Linked DNA regions of Homo sapiens. The protein of the gene in region 1 interacts with the protein of each later gene in a pairwise test. Each region holds a gene or a part of one and is shown in the gene's direction. Other genes may lie near its edges. The genes, in order: CCDC102B, ZBTB32, MARK1, FH, TPM3 and C20orf202.

Region 1 (5,058 bases):
AGTTTCTGAAAAGAGGTGGAGTATCTGTGCCTCTTTTCATCATCTTTACCATAATCATCATCATCATCATTTTGCCAACACATAATAGCATTTTCTGCTTGCAAGGTGATTTACATACATATCCACAATTTTGATAGCTTTGCAAGAAAATGAACATTATTTTACACATTATTTTCATTTTGCACTTGAAGGAACCTGCTGTTCAGAAACGTTCAATGATTTGCTTAAAGCCACAGATAAAGAAAGTGAGGGAACCAGAATTTCAAATAATGTCTTTCTGGCTCCAGAGCTATTTCCACGATGTTGTGCTGGTATTCTAGGAATGTGAATCTGGCAGAAGTCGAGCAGAATGGTTTGAAGTGGACACTGGGATTTTAGGGTGCAGGGAGGAGGTCGTGAGACAACAGCCCAAAGATCCATTCCGATATTCTATAAATCCAGACGAATTACTGTTCTATCAGTTGGGCCACACTTTTCCTTTGGGAATTGAGAGAAGAGACTGACGCTGCAAATAAGGGGTAATTTTTACATTTAAATTAGCGGCCCTCAGATTCAACACTTATGCTTTTCTCTCTCTTACATTTTCTTAAATCTACTTAGAGAAGGTATCTTTTGCATTCTCAAAGAAAATGTCATCACTGATTTGCACTGAATATTACCTATTCACAAATGAGATGTGTGAGGTGGCCAGGAATAACACTGGGGATGTACTGACTTTCCTCTGTTTCTTTTTGATACATGGTATCAACGAACACTCAGCGACCAAATACTCTTAAAACTATGGAATGACCAAGTTATTATCAAATAAAGGCATTGTATAAGTTTCATTTCAATAGGTGAAAAGCATAAATAAAATTCACATTGTAATAGATAGTGTGAAATACAGTACATTCACAGTAAAAAAGAATAGAACTTATTTATTAACATGTTTTCCTTCATATATCCAAACCTTAAAGACATTACTTCTTCTCAAAGTAGAACTAGTATCTGGGATAACATTCATTTTCTTCTTCTTTTTTTTCAATGAAATAAAAATTATAGCTTATTTCATAACAACGAGGTTTTTTTGTTCAATGTATACATGATGGTAACTATGCTATCATTTTATGAACATACTGCCTACTAGTTTAGAATCATACTATCATTAAGTAGGCTTTACTGAAGGAGTATCTTTTTGCCGTACACGAAAACAGATGAGGATAGTTGAAATGCAAAGATTTGGTCACTGACCTTGAGATTTTATTTTTGTACAGGTTTAGGTTGCATTCTAAGAATATATTCTATAGAAGACATTTTGTATAACTAGTGCTCCATCCTCAGTGCCCTGACTAATTGTAGATGCTCAATGGAGATTGTGAGCTTGAGACCTTGATTGTAAAATGGAAAACTAGATATTGTATTGGAGGTTGTGCTCAAGGCCATTTAATTGTAGTCATAGCTTTGCAAAGGACTGTTAACATTATTATATACTTAAATATTATCCAAGTTGATTTATATTTAATGATATTTCCTAAAAGAATTGCTGTTGTGTGTCATAAATATATTAAAATATTTGATGTTAAAATTTTGATAGAAGGATTTTTTTAGTAGCTAAAGAAAAAGGTGTCCTTAATATTGAGAAAAAAAACATATGCTCACTGAAGAATTTATAAATATATCTTATCATAGTGTCTGTTTCAAATTTGTAGAATTAAAGTTTCCAAAAATAAAAGTGAGATTTTTAGTCACTGACTCGGGAGCATATGTTTCTAAGCTGCAGTAAACGTTTGGAAATATAACACAGGTAAAGAGGCAATAGTTGCATGAAGAAAAACCTGTAGCAACTTTAGACTCATTTTCATTTGGAAATAGTTTTGAGAGTCTTTCATACAATCTTTCCTTTCCTCCCTTAGTGAATTTAGGATTGTGAAGGCATTAGGTGAAAGATTACATTTATGACCTCTGCAAAAGATCAAATAGTCTTATTAGTCAGCCTATATTCATGAATTTTCTATCTTCTTTTGACATGAAGGGTTTTGAACAAGCGTTTCTTCTCTGGATGAGAAGAAAATGTATTTCACAATAAAACATGAAAATTATAAGGTGCTCAGTGGGATTATAACATTTGGTAGCACAGGAAAAAAGAGAAAGATGTGGAAGTGCCATAATCCATTGGTGTTTCATATAATTCTAGAAGGTTCTGGTTATAACCTGTTCCTAATTTGGAGCTAGAATAATCTCAGGGATTGTCTGAGGGTTCAGGTGAGCTTTGTTCTATCTTTGTTTGGAAATCACTTTACAGGTATTGTCAATGGTAGGAATGAGTTGGGTCAAAGCAACTACGTAGAGTCCCTGCCATCCTATTTTTGATACTGCCCAGGCTTCTTCATTCTTTTTGTAATAATGAAACTTAAGTTATAGAATTTATGATTGCATGGATTAAAAACATGGATGTTGCAATTATGTCGTGCTACAAGTGCCCTCTAAAGGTGTTAATGCTATATGAATTTACTTGCTGGCTTTTATGTTTTTGATATGTTTTTATATTTTATGTTTTTGGTATCAGGACTAAATAAATTTGACCTGATAATGTAGATTAATGGGAGAAATTCCAGTATTCATGGATTAGAACTAGGAGGGCTATCTCAGATACAGGCTTCTCACAGAAGGCTGGGGCCTAAGCATAGGTACTGAATGCAAAGCTCTGGTCCTGGACCTCACATGGTCCATTCATTGTCTATGGTTGGCCGTCATTGTTTCCTCTGTGGCTATAAGTTTCTTCCATATTATTGAGCAGGATGTTTATCTGAATTAATATAAATGACATATTCGAGAAGCATAGATCTTTATCCAAAACGATATCAGAAGTAGAAATAGTGCAGAAGACAAACTCCACCTCCCATCTGCTGATTCTTTTGAAACCCCTTGGTCCTCTTATCTCTGAAAGGGATACATGGCTTTGTTCTCCCAAATATCCTATCCACTTTCCACGCTGTTTCAAAAGTATTTCTGGCCAAATAAATGTAAATCTTCATCTTTTGTATATACAGATAATCATCATAGGTGTATTTGTGAATTATTTAAGTACTTGGAAGAATGAAGTTGCTGATAGCAATTAAAGTGGTGTGATTGGGGTTAACCTCACTTAAAACTGTTTCTTTATTAATTTTAAAAGCCTATAAGCGTTTAATATCTAAAAGCCACCTTCTTTAGAGAAGACTGACTTATTTAGTGGAACTTGTAATGCTTGCCTTTTGGAAGAAAAGGAATAGTTCTAAGTCACTCTGTTTTAGATTTGTCCATTTAGTAATAAATGTCTACCATGTCTCAGACACTGTTCTAGCAATGGAAATAGAGATGTGAATAAAAAGTAAAACCCCTTTCTTTACATTAAGCATATAGTCTAGCTGGTAAAGCAGTAGAATCCATACATAGTATATAAATATATATTAAGTCATGATAAGTACTGGAAGAAAAAAAGAACATTCAGGCTAAAAGGGAATAGAATATTTACACACTCTTGAAATAACCAGGGAATGTCCCTTCTGTTAGGGTGAAGGATGTAAGATACTTAACCACGAGGAATCTTGGCAGAAGAGAAGTATAAAGGAAATCACATGTGCTAAAGTCTTAAGTCAGAAGAATGTCCCTTCAAGGAATGGCCAGATGGCCGGCAGCTGCTGGGAATGAGCGAGGCAGGGAGGCACAGGCAGAAGCTACTTTAAGAGGAAGTAAATCCAGCTTAAGCTTCAAGATATTAGGGTGGTGCAAAAGTAATTGCATTTTTTGCCATTACTTTCAATGGGAAAAATCACAATTACATGGTCACCAACCTAATATTATTTTACTTTTAAAAGGGCTCTTCATACCCCAACTGTAGGAGCCTCAGGTCGGGAAATCATGGGTCCTGATGAAGAGTTCAGGGATGGTTTATGTTTAGATCATGACAACATCATAAACTACAACCACTTTATTCTGAGTTTGATGGGAAGTCATTTGAATGTTGGGATCCTAGAAATATTGTAACATAAGTTGAGTGTTCAAAGCATCCACTCGGCTGTGCTGTGGAGAACATACTGGAGTAGGGAAAAGGTAGAAGTGGGGAGGCCAGATACCATACAGTATTCCAGGCAAGAGACAGGGTGGTTTGAAGGAGATATTAGAGATGGAGTTTTTGTAATTCTGCATAGGCTGTATTTCATATTTTCCTGCCAGAACTGATGGAGTTTCCAACAATGATGTGCAATGAAGAGACAAAGGAATCAAGGGTAACCCCTAAGTTTGGTCTGTAAACCTAGAAGAGTGAAATGTGCATTTATTGACACAGGGAACACTGTGGAGGAGCAGGTGTAGATGTGAGGGGAGTTCAAGTGTTTGTTTTTGAACATGTGAAATCTGAGATGCTGATTAGATATCCTTAGTGATGTTAAGTGGGCAGCTGGACACGTGAGATCCCAGAGATAAAGGAACATCTCAGGCCAGAGATATGTCTGTTAGGAAATTTCAGAAAATTAATGAATTTGAAGTCAAAGGCCTGGATGCCTTCACCCAGAGCAATTACCCCAGCCTGAAGTCTCAGTGTTGGAGCGCTTGCAGTCAGAGGTGTGAAGCTGAGACAGAATGTGGGGCAGCTACCAGGGAGTAGGAGGAGAACCATGAGAGAGGATGCCCTCAGAAGCCAAGAAAGGGAATGATGAAATGGACAATCACATACAGGGCTTCTGGTTGGCCAAGTAAAACAGGAATTTCAGGCCTGGAATTGACCATTAGATTTGCAATGTAGAAGTCACTGATTTCCTGTTTTTGTGGCAAACTAGAGTTGAAAATGATACTGCGACTTCAAGAGAAAATGAGATAAATGAAAGTGTCTTTAAAATAATTTTTATTTTAGAAAATGCCAAAGATATGGAATGGCTGCTGGGTTGGGATCAAAATCTTTTTTTTTTTTTTTATGTTGAGGGTATTATAGCATGTGCATTTGCTAATGGGAATAATCTAATCTAGAGAGAGGTACAAACTAGTTAAACAGGAGAGGAGTATATTTGAGGAGGCCATGTCCTGGAGCGGATTAGAGGAAAT
Region 2 (5,058 bases), on another chromosome or scaffold:
AAATCACCCAGGTTTTTGGCAGGGCGTGGTGGCTCACACCTGTAATCCTAGCACTTTGGGAGGCCGAGGCAGGTGGATCACCTGAGGTCAGGAGTTCAAGACCAGCCTGGCCAACGTGGTGAAACCCCATCTCTACTAAAAATGCAAAAAATTAGCCGGGCATGGTAGATGCCTGTAATCCCAGCTACTTAGGAGCCTGAGGTAGGAGAATCACTTGAACCCAGGAGGCAGAGGTTGCAGTGAGCCGAGATCGCGCCACTGCACTCCAGCCTGGGCAACAAGGGCAAAACTCTGTCTCAAAAATAAATAAGTAAATAACATAAAGGAAATCACCCAGGTTGTCTTTACTGATGATCTTTTTTATACTCATGGGGCAGGGTGTTGATACCTAGTTTCATTCAGCTGTTCAGTGGTATTTATGCTTTCGGAGTGCCTTCAGTACACCCAGAGTTCTTTAACCAGGGGTGAGGGTGCAAGGAGTGGCTTATGAGTGGACTTCAAGGAAGTCTAACCCCGAAACCAGTTAATATTGGGGCAGCTCAATTGGCCATTCCCTCTATGGTGTGGTGGGGGCCCGGGGTGCTGGCACATGAAGTGTGCAGTTAATCCCAGCTCGGCAGACAGCCACCAAGCATGATGGCACATGCCTGTAATCCCAGCTACTCAGGAGGCTGAGATAGGGGGATGACTTGAGCCCAGGATGTCAAGACTGCAGTGAGCCATGATTGTGCCACTGCACTCCAGGCTGGGTGACAGAGCAAGACTGTGTCTCTAAAAAAAAAAAAAAAAAAAAAGAACAATTAATGGTATGCATGTATATTATGAGGAGGGGAGGGTAAAGAATAAGCTAGACGATAGTTAACCTCTCCAGCCATGAGGCTCAGAGTAATCTGTCAATCTCTTGTCATGCATTCATATGCCAAGTGGTATAAGTGTCTACCATTTTCTTTTTTTTTTTTTTTTTCGAGATGGAGTCTTAGCTCTGTTACCAGGCTGGAGTGCAGTGGTGTGATCTTGGCTCACTGCAACCTCCGCCTCCCGGGTTTAAGCAATTCTCCTGCCTCAGCCTCCCAAGTAGCTGGGATTACAGGCACGTGCCACCACGCCCAGCTAATTTTTGTATTTTTAGTAGAGACGGCATTTCACCATGTTGGCCAGGACGGTCTCTATCTCTTCACCTTGTGATCCGCCCACCTCGGCCTCCCAAAGTGCTGGGATTACAGGCGTGAGCCACCGCACCCGGCCTGTGTCTACCATTTTCTAATGTCAACAATTGGTCCCAGGCTGGGTGGCTCACACTTGTAATCCCTGCACTCTGGGAGGCTGAGGCGGGTGGATCACTTGAGGTCAGAAGTTTGAGACCAGCCTGGCCAACATGGTAAAACCTCATCTCTACTAAAAATACAAAAATTAGCCGGGTGTCGTGGTGCGTGCCTGTAGTCCCAGCTACTCAGGAGGCTGAGGCAGGAGAATCTCTTGAACCTGGGAGGCAGAGGTTGCACTGAGCCAAGATCGTGCCACTGCACTCCAGTCTGGGTGACAGAAGGAGACTCTGTCTCAATAAAAAGAAGAGTTAGTCCCATGGGTGACATTCTGAACCTGATGGTGACTCCCTAAGAGATTTAGAACCATTGGAATAAAGTAGGTTCCTATATTATTTATGGGGCCTGGGCAAGATGACAGAGACTCCCTCGTCTCTTCCCATGCCTGGTGTTGGCCCATACTTCAAGGTGTCTCACATTCTAGCCTGCACATCCAAGCTCAGTCTACAAATCCCTTACACAAAATCAGGGTCTAGCGTGTGTGTACATCAGTCAGAGTCCACTCTCATGAATACAGGCCTGGGGTTGAGTCCTGTGTAGGGGGCCTCAGAGTCATTTGGTCCAGGAAATCCAGGGTGCTGAGTTCTCAGAGCATGGTCCAGAAGTGAGGTGGGAGCTCACAGTTCCGGGTAGGCACTTTCTAGATGCCTTTTGACTCAGCCTATGCGAAGGGATACAGCCAGAGGAGGTCCAAATGGGACCCTTTGCCCAGGTTTAAGTCAACACTAGTATTCTGTACTGGTCTTGAAACAGCCCCTGTGAGGAAATTGAGGGTCTTGGAAGACTTAGCTCCATATGAGTGCTGAAGAGAAGGGCCATTCACTGTGAAGGGATGCAGTGAAACCTGTTTTCCAACTTCTAGTCTAGTTCTTTTTCCAGTTAATCCACAAAGTGTGTGCTATGAAGGGGCTAGATTCAGCTCACCTGGGTATGACTATAGCTGGTTCTTGGATCATATAGAGCACAAATTTAAGGGAAAAAGGGAACTAATTCACTCCTTGTGGTGACTCTTTTCTGGAAGTCTTGGATGTACTTAACCAGAAAGACGGAACATCTTTTTTTTCTTTTTTCTTTTTTCTTTTTTTTTTTTTGAGACAGAGTTTCGCTCTTGTTGCTCAGGCTAGAGTGCAATGGCGCGATCTCGGCTCACCGCAACCTCCACCTCCCGGGTTGAAGCGATTCTCCTGCCTCAGCCTCTCGAGTAGCTGGAATTACAGGCATGTGCCGCCACGCCCAGCTAATTTTTTTTATTTTTTGTAGAGACAGGGTTTCTCCATGTTGGTCAGGCTGGTCTTGAACTCCCGACCTCAGATGATCCGCTTGCCTCCACCTCCCAGAGTGCTGGGATTACAGGTGTGAGCCACTGCGCCTGGCGAAAGAGTAAACATACTTAAAGTTCATGTAAGATTTGGATAATCGCTCTTAATCTATATAAAATGCTGTGGGGAATTTAACCACCTTCATTTGTGGAAAGAGATGGGTTCACGGGAAGAGTGGCGAGTTCACAGAATTTTTCTAAATTGAATCTTGTTCAACTTGGCTTGGGAAGAGGGCTTGATATTTAAAATAAGTGAAATAGAGGGAGAACTTTTTCACAAAACAAATGATCATCCCTCCCATTGGTCTATTCTGATGGTTTGATTTTAATTATAATATTTAAGGAGAATTGGTATTTGTGTTGCTGTGTTGACATTGTTACATCAAGCTGGGTTGTGCCTCAAGAAGTTCATGATACAAGGATTTCTGGGAAGCTTTGACTTTGCAGCCAGGGTGTGCCCCGAGCCCCTTGCACATTTTTCCCTTAGTGTCCCATTGGTCAAGTCTACCAGTAAGAATAAGAACTATCAGATTTCAGGCCAGGCGTGGTGCCTCATGCCTGTATCACAGCATTTTGGGATGCCAAGGCGGGCAGATCATGAGGTCAGGAGTTCGAGACCAGCCTGGCCAACATGGTGAAACCCTGTCTCTACTAAAAATACAAAAAATTAGCCGGGTTTGGTGATGCACACCTGTGATCCCAGCTACTCGGGAGGCTGAGGCAGGAGAATCACTTGAACCCAGGAGGCGGAGGTTACAGTGAGCCGAGATTGCGCCACTGCACTCCAGCCTGGGCAATAGAGCAAGACTCTGTCTCAAAAAAAAAAAAATCAGATTTCAAATTTTATTCAGTAATACGAGTATTAGGCCGGGCATGTAGGCTCACGCCTGTAATCCCAGCACTTTGTGAAGCCGAGGTGGGTGGATCACCTGACATCAAGAATTTGAGACCAGCCTGGCCAACATGGTGAAACACCATCTCTAATAAAAATACAAAAAATTAGTCAGGCATGGTAGCAGTTGCCTGTAATCCCAGCTACTTGGGAGGCTGAGGCAGGAGAATTGCTTGAACCGGGAGGCGGAGGTTGCAGTGAGCCAAGATAGCGCCATTGTACTCCAGCCTGGGCAACAAGAGTGAAACTCTGTCTCAAAAAAAAAAAGAAAGTAATATAAGTATTAAAAAGGACTGAGAGGCTGATATCATATTGCCTTTTATCACATACTCCCCTTCCAATCATGCCCTACCTAATCTCTCTACCTGCTCTACCCTCTGGCAGGACACAGGCTTGTGTCTGCATAACCTGTTGTTTCTTTGCTCTTTCCAGAGAGACAACTGCAGATGATTCCTACCGAGTCAGCCCAGGAAGAGGAAGGGGGGGCAAGGTTTTTGAGTCTAGGGAGGGGGAGTACTTTTAAGAACAGCAACAGACCAGGCATGGTGGCTCACACCTGTAATCCCAGCAGTGGATCACCTGAGGTTAGGAGTTCGAGACCAGCCTGGCTAACATGGTGAAACCCCATCTCTACTAAAAATACAAAAAAATTAGCCGGGTGTGATGGTGCATGCCCGTAACCCCAGATACTTGGAAGGCTGAGGCACAAGAGTCGCTTGAACCCAGAGGCAGAGGTTGCAGTGAGCCGAGATGGCGCCACTGCACTCCAGCTTGGGTGACAGAACAAGACTCTGTCTCAAAATAAAAACAAAACAGCACCAGCAGTGTCCCTACTCTTCCAAGTCAAAGTGCTGTCTGCTTCTGCCATCTGTGCTCAGTGCAGGATGGCTTGGGTTGCACTGTCAAGAATGCAGGAAGAGGCTAGAGAAGTGCTCAGGGTGTCATCAGCATAAGGGTTGCAGTGCAAAGGGCCCTGGAGATAATTCTAGGAGGCGGTCTCTAAGGGGATATCCTTAGGTGGGGTTCCCCATTCTTGGGGGCTTTTGTTCACTGAAAGGGGAGTTCCCTTGCCCCTCCTCCCTTTTAGGTTCCCCGAAAGCCCACTGATGCTCCCTGTCAACTATATTTGGCTTACACAGAATGCTGCCCTTTGAGCAGTCTCCAACTCTCTCGATCATCAATGAGCAAACCAGCGGGGGAGCTGAGTCACAAGCACATGATGTGGGGCTGGAAAGCGAGGGGGCCACACTCAGAGGGGTGACCATGTAATCGTCCAGACCCCTGTACCTTTCCTCATCCCTGGGGCTAGTCCCTCAGGGCTTTCCGCACTCCTTCCTTGTCTTGAGGGACTCTGTATTTCTGTGTTGGAGGAAGGGTGTTTCCCTCTGCGTACATACATATCAGAGGGACTGATGCTTTATGTGTCTTTTATATGGGTGTGGTGGTGTGAGGAATTGGAAAGCTCAGAAATGGAAAATAGTTAACGTTCAGAGTAGCAGATGAACACAGCTCTCACATTTGCATTT
Region 3 (5,058 bases), on another chromosome or scaffold:
TTGCCCAGGCTGGAGTGCAGTGATGCAATCACAGCTCACTGTATTCTTCTCAAGTTCTTGGGCTCAGGTAATCCTCCCACTTAAGCCTCTCGAGTAGCTGGGACTACAGGTGTGTGCCATCACACTCAGCTAATTTTTTTGTATTTTTTGTGGAGATGGGGTTTTGCCATGTTGCCTAGGCTGGTCTTGAACTCCTAGCCTCAAATGATCTGCCCTCCTAGGCCTCCCAAAGTGTTAGGATTAGAGGCATGAGCCATCACAATTGGCCTACATGTTCCAAGTCTTACCTAAACATTTTAATAATCTTAGCCTGTTTTGCTACCATACTTTTATAGTTTTTAGCATATGCTTTTTATATAACTGGTGACAAAATTCCTTCCATCTAGGAACCTGCACTACTGAAAAATTTTAAATCTGTATTCAGTTTTGTTTATATGAGTTTTTTTCCTTCTTCAAAGTGAATTCAAGCAAGTATCTATTAAGTTTGTAGCCCTCATGATTCAACAATGTTTAGGTTGCTTATATATTTTAAATGCTGGGTTAGTCAAAAGTAGCAAAAATTTTTGTTCTGTTGGGTAAGGATTAAACAGAAGAGTATTATATCCACATTGAAAATCATTTCTGTATATTTTATTACTGGTGAGTAGTCAAGGATTTGGCAGGCACAACAGTGGGTTACAGGTCAAAGGTTGTGTGCATGGTAAGGAGAATTACCTGCCTATCCCTTTTTGCTTATTTTCTCTCTTCTCTCCAAGGCTCCTCAGACTTGGCCTGCCTTCTAGCTCAAACCTGAGACTCGAGGAAATATCTTCAGGGTGGCACTGCACACACCACTGTTGGTGGCCTCAGCTGGACATGCCTTTGATCCTGGGGCATTTAGTCTGCTTAATATTCCTGGTGGTTGAGAGAGTTTCCCAAGCAGGTGAAGAAAGGCAGCCCACTGGCTTCTGAGTGGGCATGCCATCTTCACTGCCCGAGGCTCCTGTTGGTGATGATACTTAGTGTGGAGTTGGCTTGCACTCCTTGTTACTTAGAGCTGCTCACACCCCTGCTCCTGCCCTTTCTCTACCACCAGCTCACAAAGGAGGGAGTGAATAGAAACCCAGCTCTCCTATTGCTTCCAAACTGCTGGCTGCTATTATAGGAGGATAAGCTAAAACTGTAATGAGTTCATTTTTGATGCTTTGTCTTTTACTTCTGAAATCTAAATTAGAGAGAGGCAGGGGATAATCTTGTTAATATAAGATTCTGATCAATTAAAATTCTGTGGATTTTTCTCAAAGTCAGCTTAAATACATTTCTTTGGCTTTCCACAAATATATTTATAATTTTTTAATTGCCTTTTTTTTATTCTTGAAGAACAATGTGTATTCTGGAGGTAGCATGGCAAGAAGGAATACATATGTCTGTGAAAGGACCACAGATCGATACGTAGCATTGCAGAATGGAAAAGACAGCAGGTAAATGCCACAGTGCCAAGTAGTAATACCTTTGCTGTTGTTCTGTGTTAGTGCCCTTGCTGAAATGCCTGCAGCCGAATGGGTCAGGAGAAAAGCAGTTATTACATGAAATAGTAAGATTGCAACCAACCGTTCTTAGTAAGACATCTTTCCTGTACCAGGATAGAAGGATGGGAAAACATTTAGAGAAAACAAGAAACAAATCTCTTTACCTGCCAATTTCTGAGTAAAATCTGATAGTAAATATTTTTCTATAACAAAGCAGATCATACCATCCTAATTTCATCTTCATAATTTGAATCTTATTCTCTTATGCACCTGCTGCCTCCTTCCCTTTCACTTCCCATCAAGTCATTGCTGTATCTCAATAAAGGCTTTATTTTTCTCCCTCTGAAAAAAATGTGACCATCTTATTTCTCATCATTCAGAACCACATAATTTTTAAAGTGTTTTATTTCAAATAATAATAAATCATATTATTTTTATTACTTAAAAGATGTGTCTTCTTTCTATCATGAGTCACAAGGACTACTCATCAATATAGTACAAAGACATGGAGCCTATTCTAATGAAATTATTTTCTTAGTACCACCTTCAGTCATTTCAGTAGTGTGTACAACCCATTCTCACATTTGTTTCTTCTCACTTAATAAGAATGTAAAGTAAGTGCTATTGTAAGGCATACAAAGAAAAATGTATCTTCTTTGGACATAAGATAATTGGAAATTGATTTCAGACTTATGATTTTTCCTATACTAAATTTTAATCTGCAGCTCCTTTAATCTGCAACAGTTAACCTATTGACTCATAATATGATCTAAAAGTGTTTTGATGAATCTAGAGATAATATTTTTGGTATAATTATCAATTCTGATTGTATGAATAATGGACAATGAACTACAGCAACATATCACACCAAACTGTGACTTTGGGGAAGTAAAAAATGACTCCAGTCATAATAATTTTATCTGAAACTATCGTATATCCACAAAAATAATTTTGTACTTTCTCACATTTACATACATAGTGTGTGTGAGATTTTTTTCATAGATGATAGTGATAAATTCACCCTGTATACTTTTCATAAGAATATTAATTGTTTTGTTAGTCATTAATAATGCCACTAATGTTAGTTTCTTTCAAATGTTTCAGTCATGAAAGGTGTTAGTCAGTTTAGATTTTTTAAAATATAGTTCTTAAATTTTAGTAAACCACAAATTTTCCTCTTTTTTTCCATGGTCTTCTCAACTGCTTTATGGTGAAAGCCTTACGGAGATGTCTGTGAGTAGCATATCTTCTGCAGGCTCTTCTGTGGCCTCTGCTGTCCCCTCAGCACGACCCCGCCACCAGAAGTCCATGTCCACTTCTGGTCATCCTATTAAAGTCACACTGCCAACCATTAAAGACGGCTCTGAAGCTTACCGGCCTGGGTAATGTGTTGGTTACATCTCATTTTGTTCATTAAGAGTTTCTAAAAATATAGCACCATGTGAAAATACATGATAGTCACCATCACATTAAGACCTTTCTAATAAGATTCAGTGTTTGTTATGGAGGAAAAATTGAATTGTAACATAAACTTTCTATGTACTTTGGCTGTTATTGGAAATGTTGCATATAACTTAAATCATTTTCTAGAGGAATTTTTTTAAGGATTTGATTTTACATCCGTCTATAAAGTTAAAAATTGCTGTTTAATTTGTCATTTAGGTAAATTGATTTTTTTATTATTTAAACCATACGAACAAACACTAGACTGTGAGTTGAGACCCGCAGATAATGATCAGGCTCAATTCCTTGTTCTTAATAAAACCAGGCTTCAGTTTTCCTGTCAATGAAACTGATGAACTCAAAGAGCCTGTTCAGATATAAAATTGTATAATTGTTTTTCTAGTATTTTTCTATTTTAAGATTTCCCAAATTCAGTACATCTGAACATTTTAACCCTCTGTTAGATTTGTTAGGCATATTGGTGGTGCCATGTGGTATTGTAGCATCACTGAGGCCTAAATTAGAAATAGGAAATTATTTTATTCAAAGCCTTTTTAATAAACAATAAAATTTGTGTTCAACATTGCTAAGTGGTTTCAGGAGAATATTAAAAAAATATTTGCAGTACTCCTGGTTTGGCATTCCTGATACTGAAAAGTATTTATCTTTGTGTCCCTGTTTCAGTCATTTCTTGATTTTTAGTGACCAAACAAAAGGTACCTAATTTCAAACTGAAATTTTACTCCAAACCCATGTCTCACATCTCTAATGTGAACAAATAAAGTAGGGCCAAAAGAAGTAGCCATAGCTATTTGTTTCAAGTTTTTAGCTTGAGTGAAAGGTTTTCTTGTCATTATTCTGAATGATATATCTTAATTTGTCCCAGCAGTACAACCCAGAGAGTGCCTGCTGCTTCCCCATCTGCTCACAGTATTAGTACTGCGACTCCAGACCGGACCCGTTTTCCCCGAGGGAGCTCAAGCCGAAGCACTTTCCATGGTGAACAGCTCCGGGAGCGACGCAGCGTTGCTTATAATGGGCCACCTGCTTCACCATCCCATGAAACGGGTGCATTTGCACATGCCAGAAGGGGAACGTCAACTGGTATAATAAGCAAAATCACATCCAAATTTGTTCGCAGGTCAGTACCAATGTACTGTCGTGTTTTGATTCCTCTAGAAATTATAAAGGAAACTAGACTTTTTAAAAAAATCTTTATAATAATTTTCTAAAATGGTTTCATAACATTTCATTAGAGCTGCTCTTTTACAGAGTTGGAAGAAAAAAATCTAGGAAGACATAAAGTATTTTTCCTTAAGAGAGAGAAAGGAAAAAATGGACAAAATGAGATTTTAAAAATCTGTAAAATAAAATGGAAAGAACAAAGACTTAACTTCAAAAATGTGTGTTTTAACAAAAGATTATTTTATATTTAAAAGCCTTGATTGAGGAAAAGAAATGAGTTTACATGTTTCCTTCAAATTTATCTTGACAATACTTTTAAATTGCTTACTAATAATATATAATTTACATTTTTTTCTTCTTGCATAAAAAGCCTACACACCAGAGTCACAGATCACTTATGCAATTTTACATCATAAAACCTTATCATCAAAACATAGTAAACACAAAATGAATACATGTATAGTAAAGGTCTAATCTACTTAAACAATACAATTATACTTTCTAAAAAGTAAGCATACTTACTATGCTTACTATGCATACGTGTACAGTGCACATTGATGATACAAGTTGCTACTACAATGCAGGCTGATGTGGATTTCATCTATTCCTGGTCCCACTAAATGCCTACTTAAGCCCTGCGACAGACAAAGCACTGTGTTAGGTGCAGAACAGAATCTAAAGATAGGTAAGATGGCATCTGTGCCCTCCAGATTCTTATAGTCTTGTAAGAAGCAGACAAACAACTAGCCATGATATAAAGCAGAACATGTGCTAAAAAGTGTGGGCAACATGCTGGATTCCAGAGGAAGACACAATTGTTTCTATCTAGGGAGACAGTGAAGGCACCCTATCATATAATCATTTCAGCTGAGCCTTCAATGATGGGTAAGAAATAATTATACTTGCTTTAAGAAATACTAAT
Region 4 (4,385 bases), on another chromosome or scaffold:
CAGTGGGTAATGTCACTAGGTGGCACTGCTGATTAGCAACATTGAATGAACTCATTTTTCTACCTTCCCTAGATCTCTACAATGCTTTAATTTTGTTGTTTTATTCAATTCAGAAATGGAAAGTTACAATTAAAAGAAAAAGTTTATGTATTCATTGCTTATAGTGAAAGGGAGGAAGGAAAATGCAAATATTTTGTCTAAAACCATGCTATTGTATTATAAGTCTTTTTTGGAACTGTAAATATTTCATTATGTAGAATCAAACATACAGATTTGGGTAGTAGACTGACCATAGAGATCTCCATTAAATAAACTGTTTACACTTTTGTAGATTTTGAGGCATTATGTTGCATTATATTATGATGTGTTAAAAGCCTTTTACCCATTCTTCCTTTCTGCTAAGCAGAGGTTAATATATTTTCTGCCTTTCTGTTATAGAACAAGTTATGATTCACTTATTTGGCATAATATGGCTACTGCTTCTTCTATAATCTTGAACTTTCAAGGCAAATTTTATATTCCTGGTTTCACATCAAGCTATAATTACAGTTTTTTAAAATTAGAGCTCATTTGACTCTTTTAGGTAGCTCTGAGCCCAGTATGATATCAGTTTTTTGGTGTGGCATTGAGATTGGTAATAATGTTTGATCCATTTAAAATTATGGTACATCAACTACATCTGGAAAAACACAAAGGGGAACCCAGAGGCTCGTGTGAGCAGTTTTCATCAGATCTTTACTTCAGAATGTGTTACCAAAACTTTAAATTAGAGGTGTCTCCTAAAGTTGAATGATTGGCAAATCTTTATTGGAATCAACTTATTGTGACATAAAAAGAATTGTTAGAGGCCATATGAGAATGAGATGGGTCAACACCACCTCACTAGTTGACTTGGTGTGAGCCTTACAACCCTCTGAATCATGGGTTCCCTATATTCTCATTATGTACCAGGCTGGTTGCCAATAGTGTCTTGTTGGACTTGACAGCTGAAATGCTTAGACTTTAAAGCCATTATTAAAATAAAAGTACTGGATATATATTGATCTCAAGAGTTTAACATGCAAATTCTTTCTCAAAGCATTTCTGCTTTAAGAAAGATGCCCTTTTCAGTAAATGGCATCAATAAATGCCCTTTCAGATCAATAAATGCCCTTTTCAACATATTTAGCATTCACAAATTCAGTTAAGTAATAAAAGTAACTATGCCCATGCTTTCTTTTATAGCTGATTAATAATTGCATATTGACACATGCCATCTTATTGATGATGTATACTGCCTCAGCAAGCTTCTTCCTTTTGGTCATATTTCTCTGATCTTGTTTTTTTTCTCCCGCATTGGTTTCATTTTCATTCCTGCTTTTTCTTCTTGACATATATATATATATATATATATATATATATATATATATATATATATATGTTAAGACAGCTTGCAGAACTGCCCTGCCCCCACTTTTATTAATTTGAAAAGCAAATAACTCTGAAGTAAACAGTATGCCTGTGATCTTTTGTGCAGTCTGTATTTCTGCCCAGACTCCCTATTTGTGTCCCTGTAATGTCTGGGAGGAGGCCAGGGTATAGAAGCCATTGCAGTGGAGAGCCACATAGAGAAGAGCCATTGGAAGCAGCTCTGGAGGCACCCCTCCCCAGGCCCTGCCTGCGCCTGCCTCACTGCGAGGACTTCTCCCCTCTCAGAGCCACTCACCACAGTTGCCAGACGTGCAGTGCTTTATTTTCTGCTGGACTGGAGCATTTAGCTTGTTAATGTTTCTTTAGAAAGATAATTGTTTCTAGTTAAACATGTTGTTTGAAAAATATACCCAGATGTATATTTTTATGTCGTGGTGCTATAATTTCTACTTTTTTCCCCTTCAAAATATCTAAGTTACTGGAAAATTTCAACTTAGGAACAAATCTGTTGGAGAAAGTGAGGTATGTTTAAGTGTTTATTTCTTAAGGAAAGTAAATGTTCTACATAAAAAATGATTATTGAGATAATCACTGTTAACTAATTTAAAAACAAAAAATGTCATTTAAGAGGCCCATATAGCATCAATATCAAGTAAACAATTATGTCACCTTTTGCTTTAGGAAACCAAATATCACTGCTAACCCATATGTCGTCTTTTTATTTTTTCTTCAGGGTATGACAAGGCAGCAAAGATTGCTAAGACAGCACACAAAAATGGATCAACCTTAAAGGAAACTGCTATCGAACTTGGCTATCTCACAGCAGAGCAGTTTGACGAATGGGTAAAACCTAAGGACATGCTGGGTCCAAAGTGATTTACATAAATTTATAATGAAAATAAACATGTATAAAATTTAAAAAAACAGACTCCCATTTCTTAAAAACGGATAAGTTTGAAAGGAAACTGCTATTGAACTTAAGCATCTCTAGCAGAGCAATTTGATCAGTATATAAAACCCTAGGATGTGCTAGGTCTAAGATGGATTAAACAAGTATAAAATAAAATACATTTATAAAATAAAAAGGAAAACAGACTTAAATTTTCTCCTATGTTAATTGACTTGTATTATAGTTGAATCTATGATATTTGTGCATGTTGTCTTTGTGACTTCATAAGTTACCAATTTCTAAAGGGTTTTAATTTTGGAGGTTATTGGTGGTTTAAAAAATTGCCCGATTATATCTTATTATCTCATTCCCAAACTATGTCCTTAGCCATCTTTTATTTTCCTTTGATTTGGAGACACAGTGACCAAGCCCTTTTGAGTGGGGATGTGTATATGTGTGTGTGTGTGTGCACGCACGTGTGTGTGTGTGATAGAATAGGTTAAGAAAATTGGGACATACATATCCTGTGTGTTAAACACACACCTATCCCTCCAACCTTGTTTCTGTTACCACAGAGGGACCAGATCAAGGCCAGGCATGGTGGGTCAGGGACACCGACTTTAGGAGACTGCGCTTTGGGAAACTGAGGCAGAAAGATCATTTGAGCCTAGGAGTTTGAGACCAGCCTGGGCAGCATAATGAGATCCCTATCTCTACAAAAAATAAAACAAAAATTAGGCAGGCTTGGTAGTGTGTGCCTGTAATCCCAGCTACTCAGGAAGCTAAGGTGGTAGGATTCCTTGAGCCCAGGAAGTTGAGGCTGCAGTGAGCCAAGATTGCACCCCTACACTCCAGCCTAGGTGACAGAGTGAGACCCTGTCTCAAAAGAAAAAAAACAACAAAAAGACTGGGTTAAGAATTACAGGACAAGGGTTAGAAAGATAAAGGGAGCAGGCAGGAAGATGGGAAGGAAAGGAAAGATGTCCTGAAAGTGAGTCTTGTTCATCATCTCAAGTGCTGAGATTCTTCAGCAGAAATTCATTTGAAACAACCTTAGGGGATTTTGAATTAGCAGTTATAGGGAGATGCAGAATAGGGTGACCCAAATCCAAAGCTAAGGAATGTATTTAAAATAGAGCCAACCTCTACTATGCAGGGAGTCGGAACAGGCATTTGTTCTATTTTTTCTTCTACCTCGTGTAATAAATAACAGGATCATAAGAGGAACTCTCATTAACTAAAACATCTCATCTGTAAGTATTACTCTATCAGGTACATTTTAAAAAATGGGATATTTACCCCCTAATATTCTTGGGAAATCAGTCACATTAACACCAACTCCTCTGTCGTAGTTTGAAGTAGTTGCTTTATATAGAATTTAAAAGCGTAATTTAAAAAGTTCTAGAAACATTGTGATGAAAGATGAAATTTATATTTTTCTAATTTCTTAAGCGTGAATGGTCACTATTAAAAGGCTGTTCAAACTTTAAAAACTGAACTATAGAGAACCTATAGGATCTACTTTTTAGCTCATGCAATACTGTTTCTGCCAGTGTTTTTCAGAGGGCGATGCGATGATGCTTGTGTAGCTTGCTTTAAAACAAAGCATGCTTTCCGTTGGCACATTCTGTTTGGTTTTTTTTAGAAAAAGATTTTTATTGGAAAATAAAATCAATTAGACTGCATAGCTATGCCTGGACCCCGACAACCAAACTGGCAACTGATCTGTAGTTGTGAAACAGTTTATCCACTATGATGCTGAATGTTTTGCCTTAGCAGGCATTCTCAGTCTAAATAGGCTGTCATTTGAGGGTCACGAGAGACACAGTGACTTATGTAATAAAGATTATGGCAGATCAAGTTCCTAGCCTCAGACAGTCTTTGCACAGCTGTCTGATGTATCCCAGCATATTATAGGGCATCATGGAATCCTTTGAGTTGGCAGTCATCTTTGTGTGATGTTAGTGAAGTGAAACCGCTTTATGATGCAATCTAAATAAGGCTTGTAGAATTCCCTGTTGGAGGGTTGTTCCGAAAGTCAACTTCCATGTTTTTTCGCTAGGGGCAATTTTGTCTCCCAGGGGAC
Region 5 (5,058 bases), on another chromosome or scaffold:
CTTCAACCCTGGAGGCGGAGGTGGCAGTGAACCAGGATTGGATCATGCCACTGTACTCCAGCCTGGGCGAGTATCGGCACTGGGGGAGTGAGGGGTCAACTGCGGGAGTGTAAGGTCAGCACACTACCTCTGCCTCAAAAAGAAAAAAAAAAGTAATAACAAAAACCTTAAGAGTACTACCGAGGGAGTGGGCTTTGATTCTGGCCTTAATCCTAAATTCCTAGTCTCTGGAGAGGTTAGAATGCTTGACTGTTGTGTGGTTCTCTTCTATTCGTGGGCCTGGTGGACTAAGCAACCTTTCTTTGGTTGCTTTGCTTTCCTTTCTCTTTCCCCAGTACTAGAACACACACTCACAGGGGAGAGGCAGATAGCCCTTTACCCCTGCTTAGGCTCCGCCTTTGTTTACTGTGGGGCAGATAGCTCTACTCCCTTCCAACTTGCCTCCCCTTTGGTGAAGTTTAAATTCCCCAAGGACACGGTATCTCCCTGGGTAATGCATTTGTGAGCACAGTGAACTCAAATAGTCCTTTACTCACAGGGCTCAAGCCTAACTTTCTGATACTCTTTCATTTGAATTTTATCTGTGGCTTTTATCTAATAAGAGAAACCCCAGTGTGGCAGAAAGCCAGATTTAGGCTAATCCCCTTCTGTCCTTGGCCCTGTTCTGCCTGAGAGTACCATCACACTGTCAGTTTCTTGCCTGGAGGGGTTGACATATTTGGGAAATCTCTTTGGAGTGGAGGATAGCCGAAGGTGTTGTCAGCCATCTGGTAATGTGACTGAGTTGCTGGGGCATTCTACTCTTTCCCCAATCCCTCACCCAGGATCTTTGCTTCCTGGGCAGTGGAGAATCCTATTATTACTTGAAGGGAAGAACCACAGAGTACTGTATATCCTCCACACTGGGCAGAGATAGGTCAGCTGAAACACCAAAACCGCATCTGGATGGGCATGCTAAAACCTAAGATGATTAGGAAAGTGCAGAGCTTAACGTTTCCCAGGGCCACAGGTAGCCTGGTCTGCAAAAAGTAGGCCTGTTCAATCTCTTGGTACCCATTGGTATTATTTGACCTGAAAGGGACAGGCACTGTGCATAGACTCATGAGGGAAAAGTCAGCTTGTCTTCCTTGTTCCTTTAAACAAAGTATCAGATCTTGATTCTGCAGGCTTTTGTTTCATTGTAAAGAGAACTGATCCTCTGTGCTAGGAGAAAAGAGAAAGGCAAGGTCCCATTCCCTACCACTCCACCCTGGAGGGGGTCTCTGAAGCTTTTTCTAGGACTCCCATCTCAGGTTCTGCTTTTGATACAGGCTTGTTCATGTGTGCATGCTCTTAGGAGGGCACCAAGATGTGTTTTCCCCCTCTCCCTTTTCAGCCTTGCTAAGAATTCTATTGTAAATGCTGATTTGTGGGAGAAACTGCCTGAGCCAGCTTGCTGTCATGGCAACTGTACACCCCCGCCCCATAGCCTGTTATCTTCTACTCCAGTTTGGGTAACTACTGGTGAGCTGCATGATGTCTTACATTTCATGAGCTTCCTCTAAATCTAGTTGTATTTTTCGTCTGAGGGGGGTAAGTCATTTTACTAGCAGTGTCTCCTAGGTCTTGCCTGATAGCCTGACTTGCTCTTGATCCATGGCCTTGTTGGGTTTGTGAGGAGAAATGTGTGTTGTTACAGAGAACATCTATTTTTCTGGAAGAGGCAGAAGCAGAGAATACTTGTCTTTGTGGTGTTTTGAGTAGTGTAGTTAGAGGCACAAATGGTTTCTTAATGATTTCAGCTTATGTTGACTTCTCGATTTTCTTTGCCTGGTGGCTAGATTGTAGCCCCAGCCCTCTGCTTCCCTTCCTAGTCTCTTCAGCTTCTCATGTTTGTATGTGGAAGTTTTTGTGCCAGTCCTGATGGTTAAAAAGGAGTCTTTTGGTCTATATTCTTCCTCATCGGAGCTAGTGGCCCAGGCTGTTTCTATAGCTGCACCAACTCCTGCCTGCCAGGAAGAAATCAGGGTAATAGAATTCAGGCACAATCTGGGCTATAGAAGAGAGATCGTGTTTACCAGGCACTTGGATAAGCATCTGAACTGGGTGGTGTGCGGGGCATATTAAATTCTTGTATACTGTTGCAGTCAGGGTACCTCCCACCAGTAAAGGTAGCGGGGAGGCAGTCATGGAAAGAGGTTTTCCTACCATTAGAATTTATCCATCCACCTGCAGGCTGCCTCCTTCTTTCCTTGTTTCTTAGAGAAAACCCATCCAGGATGGGTTTACTTGGACTCTAACCTATATACTTCATTGTGAGATGGAGGCCAGGGGGAAGATTGTCGCTGTATTAGAGGGTGAAGCTAAGGGGATGGCTGGAGGAATAGAAAGGAGAAAATTCAGAAATTTGGAGGAATGGTAGTGGGTGTGGTGGAAATGTTCTTTCTTTTTTGTAAAGCTATCAAAGCAGATAATTTTAGCCAGAAGCAGCTCCTTGTAGCCAACTTAAAAAAGGAGTACGGGGGCACAAGTTGAAGGGCTGGTGAGTAGGCATCCCAACAATATTCCATTCTTTTGCTTTCCAGTCTGGAAGGCTATTCTGGAAGACATTCCCTTGGCTAGTTATTCTTCTGATGTGTTAGGGTAAAGTGATCATAGGAATAACGGTTTGAGTTAAGCAGCAATTAATAGGTAATCCAGGATTCCCTCTTTTTTTTTTTTTTTTTTTGAAATGGAGTTTCACCGTGTTGCCCAGGCTGGAGTGTAGTGGCGCAATCTCAGCTCAGTACAACCTCTGCCTCCCGGGTTCAAGGGATTCTTCTGCCTCAGCCTCCCGAGTAGCTGGGACTAGAGGTACGCGCCACCACACCTGGCTAATTTTTGTATTTTTTATTAGAGTCAGGGTTTCACCATATTGGCCAGGCTGGTCTCAAATTCCTGACCTCATGATCCACCCGCCCCAGCCTCCCAGAATACTGGGATTACAGGCATGAGCCACCACACCCAGTCAGGATACCCTCTTTAAGAAACCTTGCTTTTTTTTTTTTTTTTTTCCTGCTTTATGAGACACTTGAAAGGTTACTGAGGATGAGACATGCCTCCAAGCCAGAGCTCAGGCAGAAGGAACCCTTCATTGACTTTCTTTTCTGACTCCAGTGTGTTGAGGAATTTGAACTGAGTCCAGGAAGTGGGTGGTACTAACTCACTGGGCTGGGCAAGGAACTGAGTTTTAAAACACTCTTCCTGTGGAACATATGGGAGTTCGTTGATGGGAAAGGGAGGAAATATATATATATAAAGTTATGTCTGCTAGATCTTTTAACAGCTGAGCTAAGACAAGTTCTACCCTGCGAGACTCTGGCTTTTTCATGGTAGTCAACCCTGATCTTAATGTCATAGTTATTTCTTCTTTTCTCCATGCCTCTGCTTCCCTTGTCCATTCTTTCCTTCAAATGCAGGCTGAGGCTGAGGTGGCCTCCTTGAACCGTAGGATCCAGCTGGTTGAAGAAGAGCTGGACCGTGCTCAGGAGCGCCTGGCCACTGCCCTGCAAAAGCTGGAAGAAGCTGAAAAAGCTGCTGATGAGAGTGAGAGGTGTGTAGGGAAGCCTGATGGAGTGTGGATTTTAAAAGTTCATAATAGTTCTGATCAAGATTTCCTTATAGACCTGTTTTCTAAATAGCAATTCTGGCTGCGTGTGATGGCTCACGCCTGTAATCCCAGCACTTTGGGACGCTGAGGCAGGAGGGTGGCTCAAGCCCAGGAAGTTGGGGCTACAGTGAGCTCTGATTGCGCCACTGCACTCCTGGGTGACAGAGAAAGACCCTGTGTCAATCAGTCAATAAAAATAAAATACTAACTCCATCACACAGGATCTCCTTTCTATTCTGCATATTCTGTCCCCTTGAAGACAGTAAGGGTAACTTAGATGTTGTGACCCTTTTGTAATTGGTATTTCCTTACAAATTGGCCTAATGATCCTTAAAATGGGATCACCAGTATGACTTCTACTTTCTGGATCATAAGCTTCTATTTGTGAGATTAATTTCTCTAAAACAGAGGTTCTCTAAGTAAGGTCTCAGACCAGCAGCATCAGCAATACTTGGGAACTTGGTAAAAATTCACATTCTCAGCTCCTATGCTGATCTGCTGAATCAGAAACTTTGGATGTGGGGCCTGGCAATCTGTTTTTAGTAAGCCTTCTCAACGCTGGTTGCATTATTAGAATCATAGGTAGGGGTGAGGGGGGAAATCACTGGGGAATTTAAAACTGGATGCTTAGATCTCATCCCAGTTCCATTAGAATCAGTTGCAAGAGGGGTCTGGGCATTGATGTTTTTAAAGTTCTCCAGCTAATTTTTTTTTTTTTTTTTTTTTTGAGACAGAGTCTCGCTCTATAGCCCAGGCTGGAGTGCAGTGGCGCAATCTGGGCTCACTGCAAGCTCCGCCTCCCGGGTTCACGCCATTCTCCTGCCTCAGCCTCCCAAGTAGCTGGGACTACAGGTGTCCGCCACCACGCCCGGCTAATTTTTTGTATTTTTAGTAGAGACAGGGTTTCACCGTATTAGCCAGGATGGTCTTGATCTCCTGCCTTTGTGATCCTCCCGCCTCGGCCTCCCAGTGTGCTGGGATTACAGGCGTGAGCCACTGCGCCCGGCCTTCCCCAGCTAATTTTAATGTGTTCCTAGGGTTGAGAACCATGGCCCTTGAAACAAATTATAACTCATGTTTTTGAAAATAGCCAGTTGTCTCCTTGCCACATGTGAGTTAAACTAGAACAGAGGTGCTTGACAACTAAGGGTTTTCAGAATAAATAGTGCCTTTCTAAGGGTACGTTACTACTGTGCAGCTGTGAAAATGAAAGAGGCAGCTATGTGTATACTATTAGAGTAGCATGCAAATTATAGAAAGTGAGGGCCGGGCGCAGTGGCTCACACCTGTAATCCCAGCACTTTGGGAGCCTGAGGTGGACGATCACTTGAGGCCAGGAGTTCAAGACCACCCCAGCCAACACAGCAAAATCCAGTCTCTGGTAAAAGTACAAAAATTAGCCAGGCGTGGTGGGGCGCGCCTGTAATCCC
Region 6 (5,594 bases), on another chromosome or scaffold:
ACAGGTGTGAGCCACCATACCTGGCCTCAAAATACTTTTAATTATCTTCATCTGAAGTTCTTGGGGGAAGGGGGTGAATGGTGTCTGTTGACTCTCATTTATGGTGAATGGCTTCCTTGTGTGTTCTTATATGAGTTCATCTTCAGGGGAGCTCTATCTGAGGATATTTTGTGTAGCCAGATTGAGGGCAAGTTTCCCTAAACTCGGCTGAGTTTGCTTTGCCAGTCATTTCACATCTTTATCTGGGGTCACTATGCTAATTCTTGGTTTGGAGTTTCTAGTGCATGTGAATAGAATAAATTTATATATATACATTTGCAGTCTCAGTTCACTGCAACCTCCGCCTCCTGGGTTCAAGAAATTCTCCTGCTCCAGCCTCCTGAGTAGCTGGGATTACAGGCGCCCACAACCACACCCGGCTAATTTTTGTATTTTTAGTAGAGACGGGGTTTCACCATGTTTAGCCAGGCTGGTCTCGAACTCCTGGCCTCAGGTGATCCGCCCACCTCGGCCTCCCAAAGTGCTGGTATTACAGGCGTGAGCCATCACGCCTGCCCAATAAATTTATATTTTAAAAGACCTATGTGAGAATAGAGTCTACATATTTTCATCGTAGCATTAATTTGATTGTTTGTTTCCAATGACTACTAGGATGTCAGCTCCAGGAAAGCAGGGCCTTTGTTTCTCTGATTTTGGTTGATAACCCCAGTGTCTAGAGCAGAACTCGGCACACAGTAGACATTCAATAAGTGTTTAGCGAAAGAGAGAATTGAATACCTGCTTCACGGTGTGATGATGTCAGTGGCATTTGAACCAGAGTAACTCCATCTTGAATAGGGGCTGGGTAAAATGAGGATGAGACCCACTGGGCTGCATTCCCAGATGGTTAAGGCATTCTAAGTCACAGGATGAGATCAACACAAGATACAGGTCGTAAAGACCTTGCTGATAAAACAATTGCAGTAAAGAAAGTGGCTAAATCTCACCAAAACCAAGATGGCCACAAGAGTGACCTCTGGTCATCCTCACTGCTACACTCCCACCAGCGCCATGACAGGTTACAGATGCGATGACAACATCAGGAAGTTACCCTATATGGTCTAAAAAGGGGAGACATGAATAATCTACCCCTTGTTTAGCAGATCATCAAAAAATAACCATAAAAATGGGCAACCAGCAGCCCTCAAGGCTGCTTTATCTATGGAGTAGCCATTCTTTTATTCCTTTACTTTCCTAATAAACTTGCTTTCATTTTACTGTATGGACTCCCCCTGAATTCTTTATTGCATGAGATCCAAGAACCCTCCCTTGGGGTCTGGGTTGGGACCCCTTTCCTATAACAATGGGAAGAATAAATGGTGTGTCAGGACTGTGTTTGCCTGCAAGTAGCAGAGTGTTCCATTAGACATCGGGTCTGTTTTCTCATATAGATGCTGTTGCCGAGTCAGGGGTGCAATGATTTCTAATGGCTCTGTGATTTTCTTGGGCTTTGTCTTATGGTCGCAAGACAGTTACCATAGCTCCAGACATTACATCCACATTCAAGGCAGAAGGAAAAGGGAGAAAGTAGGAGTAAAAGGGAAGCAGCAGTGACATTTTCCCTTTTGTTAGGAAGGTAAAAGTTTTTCTGGAAGCCTAACAGCAAATTGCTGCTTTGATCTCATTTGCTGGAAATGGGTCACATGGGGATTCCAGAAACAAGGAAACTTGGAAAGTGAGCATTTCCTTTATCTGGACTCTATAGATAAGTAAATGAGGACAGGGACTTGGGACACCCGTGGAGGTATATGCCAAATGAGACATATACATAGTTTATATGTAAAGCACAAAGCAAACCCTTAGAAAAGAGTGCCTATTTTCATAATAACCATATTGTTGCCATTTAAAGCTTTGCATTCTCTGTGATCCTGTTGGCATCACATATTCTTGGCTTCTGGAACAGCAGGCTCCAAGGTACTCGGACCCATAATGGTCTCCCTCCCTTCCTCCTTGTTCTGTTCAGAGCACTAAAGCCCTTTAAAAAAAAAAAAAAAGCCAGATTACATTTTTCAATGTGAGCTACTTCCTGCTCTCATTAACTCCATCTTCAGTGATTTGGCCAGAACCTGCTGCCAGTCTGAAAGAGTTGGGGGAATGTACAAGTCAAAGATCCCTCGGGCCCAGAACCAGGTCAGTGTCAAGGTCACTCCTAAGAACACTGAGATGAAAATAGCAGAAGAGCCCAGCCCGAGTCTTGGGCAGACCTTGGAGTGGCTGAGAAAGGAGCTGGTAAGGTTTTGCATTGCTTTTCCTTGATGCCCCGACTACATATTTTCCAAAGATCTCTGGTTTTCCTTCCCGGGTCCCCCCTGGGGCAGAGGCTGCAGGCTACGGTATGGACCCTGCAGTCTCCCCTCTGGGACCTACCACACAATGCACAATTGTGATCTCAGGTTCAGGGATAAGTAGGTCGTGGCCTATATGGGAGGTGCTGGGTGTGGTGCTGGCCAGACTGGTTTTAGAATGACACTGAGTCCTCCGTGTGTGCTGAGTCCTCTGTGTGGCTCTAGCAGGGGATTTATCTCTTTGAGCCTCAGTTTCCTTATCACAAAATGGGAATAACAATAGTACCAATATCATATGGGGTATTGTAAGGATTCACTGAAGAGATGCTTGTAATCCTCTTAATGAATACTTGGCACCGTGGTGCTGGCTATTATAACCCTGACCCAGATGGACATGCGTACACCCAATGTCTTAGCCTGGGTCCCCTAGAAAGCAGAGGCTTGGACAAGGATTGAGAAACTAGCACTTTATTTGGAAGTACAAGCCAAGGGTGGTGATAGGGAGGAACATAGGGTGTGGCAGCAGAGGCCAATGCTATGCCAGGCAATTACGCCAGACATTGTATTACCAAGCAGCCTACGGCTTCAGAAGTTGCCTTAAGGAGGCCCAGTGGGTGTCTCAGCAGCTGAGATGCTCTGCAGGGGTTGAAGGAGGAACTGCACATTGGGGGAGAGAGAACGAGAGGAAATTCATCTGCCCAGCTCGTTCCTGTCTCTCATTTCCCATTGGCAAGGGCCTCCCCCATGGAGCACTAACTCTCCTGACCCGATGTTATGTTACTTGGTCCTGTGGTTGCTGCTCAGGAAGCCAGGCTTATGCCTTTCATTATGGTATTTTCTCCAAGTCCGAAAAAAGAGGGGTGCCCCCAAGTGTGTGGGGACACCAGCCAGGAGAGAGGAGGCAGCTCAGGGAACCTCAGAAGAGGTTTGTTTCTCAATATACACACCTCTCATCCTGGGGAGAGACAGACAGGATTGTCCAAAAATGACCTTTCTGGGTTGCCAGGCAACAGGCCAGCTGGGACCCAACCCTGTCATCACCCCAGAGGAAGGGCTGACCCAGTAGGGTTTCTCATGGGACCAGGGAATTCCAGCAGCAGGGACTGCAGCTTCCCACAGTCAGCAGGCATCCAGCACTGGGCAGCTGTCTTCCTTATGCTCCCTGAAACTGTGGGTGCCTGGATGCCTCATCACCACCTCCGTGCTGGGAACCCCACTGTGGTCTTGTAGGCGCATACCCAGAAATATGTGCAGGAGGAAAACCCTAAAATCGAGAAAACACAGAGTGAATGTTTTCTGAGGAATTAGGAAAAAATGGGCCCAGGACCACTCGCTCTGCAGCCTGAGTCGTCCCAGTGTTCTGAGGGAGGCCGACTACACCTTTGCTTCACGTCTTTCCTTTTTTTTTTTTTTTTTGAGATGAAGCCTCACTCTGTCGCCCAGGCTGGAGTGTAGTGGCACGATCTCGGCTCACTACAACCTCCGCCTCCTGGGTTCAAGTGATTCCCCTGCCTCGGCCTCCCTAGTAGCTGGGATTACAGGCGCATGCCACCACGGCTGGCTAATTTTTTTGTATTTTTAGTAGAGACCGGGTTTCACCATGTTGGCCAGGCTGGTCTTGAACTCCTGACCTCAGGCAATCTGCCCACCTCGGCCTCTCAAAGTGCTGGGATTACAGGTGGGAGCCACTGGGCCTGGCCTCACATCTCTCTTTCTAGCTACATATTCTCTTGGCAGTGTTACTCATGCTTGAGTAGAGGATGCAGACTTGGTCTTCTTACTTGTAATCAGCTTGTCACAAAAATGAAAACACTATTTTTAGTGGGGAAATAATGTTCATAAGTATCTCTTGCAAAGAGAGACAGAGAAAGAGAGAGGCTGAGAATCTGTATATCTAACCATGTGTTGCCCCGACCAGCTTTGGAAGGAAAAACAGAAGCATTTGCAGTGGCTGCCTCTGGAGAAGGACGCTTGAGTTGAGGGATAAAGTGAGGTGGGTGGGAGAGACTTTTAAATATATGTCCTTTTGTAGCTTTTAAATTTTCTATCATGTGTTAAGAATTACTTAGTCAAAAAATAGAATTTTAACATTTTTAAAGAGAAAGCGAACTTTGGGAGCTGAGTTGAGAGGATCGCGTGAGCCCAGGAGTCTGAGACCAGCCTGGGCAACATGGCAAGACATTGCCTCTACAAAAAATAGCCGGGCATGGTGGTGTGCACCTGGAGTCCCAGCTACTCGGGAGGCTGAGGTGGGAGGATCAGTTGAACCCAGGAGCTCGAGGCTGCAGTGAGCCGTTATTGCACCACTGCACTCCAGCCTGGGCAACACAGTGAGACCCCGCCTCAAAAATAAATAAATAAATAAATAAACAGAAAGAAAAAGAGAGAAAATGTATGGGAAAAAATTCTCAGGAAAAAATGGGAGAAAGAATGGAGATGGCTGAAGATGACAGGAGAGTTCTAATGCAGCAGTTCTCAAACTTTTGGGTCTTAGGAACCCTTTATGCCCCAAAAAATTATTAAGGCCACCAAAAAGCTTTTGTTTACGTGAGTTATATATAACAATACTGACTGAATTAGAAGCCAAAGCTGAGACATTTTTAATATATTTACTAATGCATTCTAAAATAATAACAAATTCATAATATGTTAATAAAACATTACTTATTCAAAATAACTATATTTTTCAAAGCAAATATTTAGTGGGAAGAGTAGCCCCATTTTACATTGTTGCAAATTGCTTTAATGTCTGTCTTAATAGAACACAGCTGGATTCTCATAGCTGCTTCCTGCATTCAGTCTGTTGAGACATTACATGTCATTAGCTTCTGGAAAACTCCATGGTATGCTCATAAGAAAATGAAAGCAAAAAAAGGAAAATAACGTCTTACTATTGTAACCAAAGTAGTTTTGACCTCGCTGACCCCTTGAAAGGATTTTCCCATGGGCAAATTCATTCAGTCCTCATGAAAGCCTTGAAAAGTAAGCAATTTGCTTTCTGCTTTGCAGAGCAAGAAACTGAGGCATTGGTGGATACGGCTTCTGTGAGGCTGTGCGAATCACAAGTGGGCTGGTCTCCGATGAGACAGCGAGGGAAGGGGCTTGATGGGGAAACATCCAGGGCTCCACGCATCCCCTCACAGGCTCCTTCTCTCTCCTAGTCTGAGATGCAGATTCAAGATCAGAGTCTCCTGCTCACACTGAGGCATCTTCACAGTGTCCTGGAGGAGCTGCGTGCGGACAGCGCCCACTGGGAGGACGCCAGGTCCA

What was found.
Region 2: the proteins of CCDC102B (region 1) and ZBTB32 interact in a two-hybrid assay, tested with the Homo sapiens proteins (one large-scale study listed by BioGRID).
Region 3: the proteins of CCDC102B (region 1) and MARK1 interact in a two-hybrid assay, tested with the Homo sapiens proteins (one large-scale study listed by BioGRID).
Region 4: the proteins of CCDC102B (region 1) and FH interact in binary tests that used the Homo sapiens proteins (3 or more experiments, as listed by UniProt).
Region 5: the proteins of CCDC102B (region 1) and TPM3 interact in a two-hybrid assay, tested with the Homo sapiens proteins (one large-scale study listed by BioGRID).
Region 6: the proteins of CCDC102B (region 1) and C20orf202 interact in binary tests that used the Homo sapiens proteins (3 or more experiments, as listed by UniProt).

What each region holds. Positions count from the first base shown.
Region 1 is NC_000018.10:68,799,950-68,805,007, forward strand, and holds part of CCDC102B (coiled-coil domain-containing protein 102B), read left to right. Parts: intron 1-5,058. UniProt on the Homo sapiens protein: During interphase, forms fibers at the proximal ends of centrioles to maintain centrosome cohesion. During mitosis, dissociates from the centrosome following phosphorylation to allow centrosome separation. Contributes to CROCC/rootletin filament formation.
Region 2 is NC_000019.10:35,706,423-35,711,480, forward strand, and holds part of ZBTB32 (zinc finger and BTB domain-containing protein 32), read left to right. Parts: intron 1-5,058. UniProt on the Homo sapiens protein: DNA-binding protein that binds to the to a 5'-TGTACAGTGT-3' core sequence. May function as a transcriptional transactivator and transcriptional repressor. Probably exerts its repressor effect by preventing GATA3 from binding to DNA.
Region 3 is NC_000001.11:220,649,261-220,654,318, forward strand, and holds part of MARK1 (serine/threonine-protein kinase MARK1), read left to right. Parts: intron 1-1,359; coding exon 1,360-1,460; intron 1,461-2,725; coding exon 2,726-2,890; intron 2,891-3,837; coding exon of another isoform or gene 3,838-3,840; coding exon 3,841-4,092; intron 4,093-5,058. UniProt on the Homo sapiens protein: Serine/threonine-protein kinase. Involved in cell polarity and microtubule dynamics regulation. Phosphorylates DCX, MAP2 and MAP4. Phosphorylates the microtubule-associated protein MAPT/TAU.
Region 4 is NC_000001.11:241,495,729-241,500,113, reverse strand, and holds the end of FH (fumarate hydratase, mitochondrial), read left to right. Parts: intron 1-2,143; coding exon 2,144-2,286; 3' UTR 2,287-2,511; downstream 2,512-4,385. UniProt on the Homo sapiens protein: Catalyzes the reversible stereospecific interconversion of fumarate to L-malate. Experiments in other species have demonstrated that specific isoforms of this protein act in defined pathways and favor one direction over the other.
Region 5 is NC_000001.11:154,174,628-154,179,685, reverse strand, and holds part of TPM3 (tropomyosin alpha-3 chain), read left to right. Parts: intron 1-1,481; exon of another isoform or gene 1,482-1,572; intron 1,573-3,437; coding exon 3,438-3,571; intron 3,572-5,058. UniProt on the Homo sapiens protein: Binds to actin filaments in muscle and non-muscle cells. Plays a central role, in association with the troponin complex, in the calcium dependent regulation of vertebrate striated muscle contraction.
Region 6 is NC_000020.11:1,201,384-1,206,977, forward strand, and holds the start of C20orf202 (uncharacterized protein C20orf202), read left to right. Parts: upstream 1-2,070; 5' UTR 2,071-2,202; coding exon 2,203-2,268; intron 2,269-5,485; coding exon 5,486-5,594.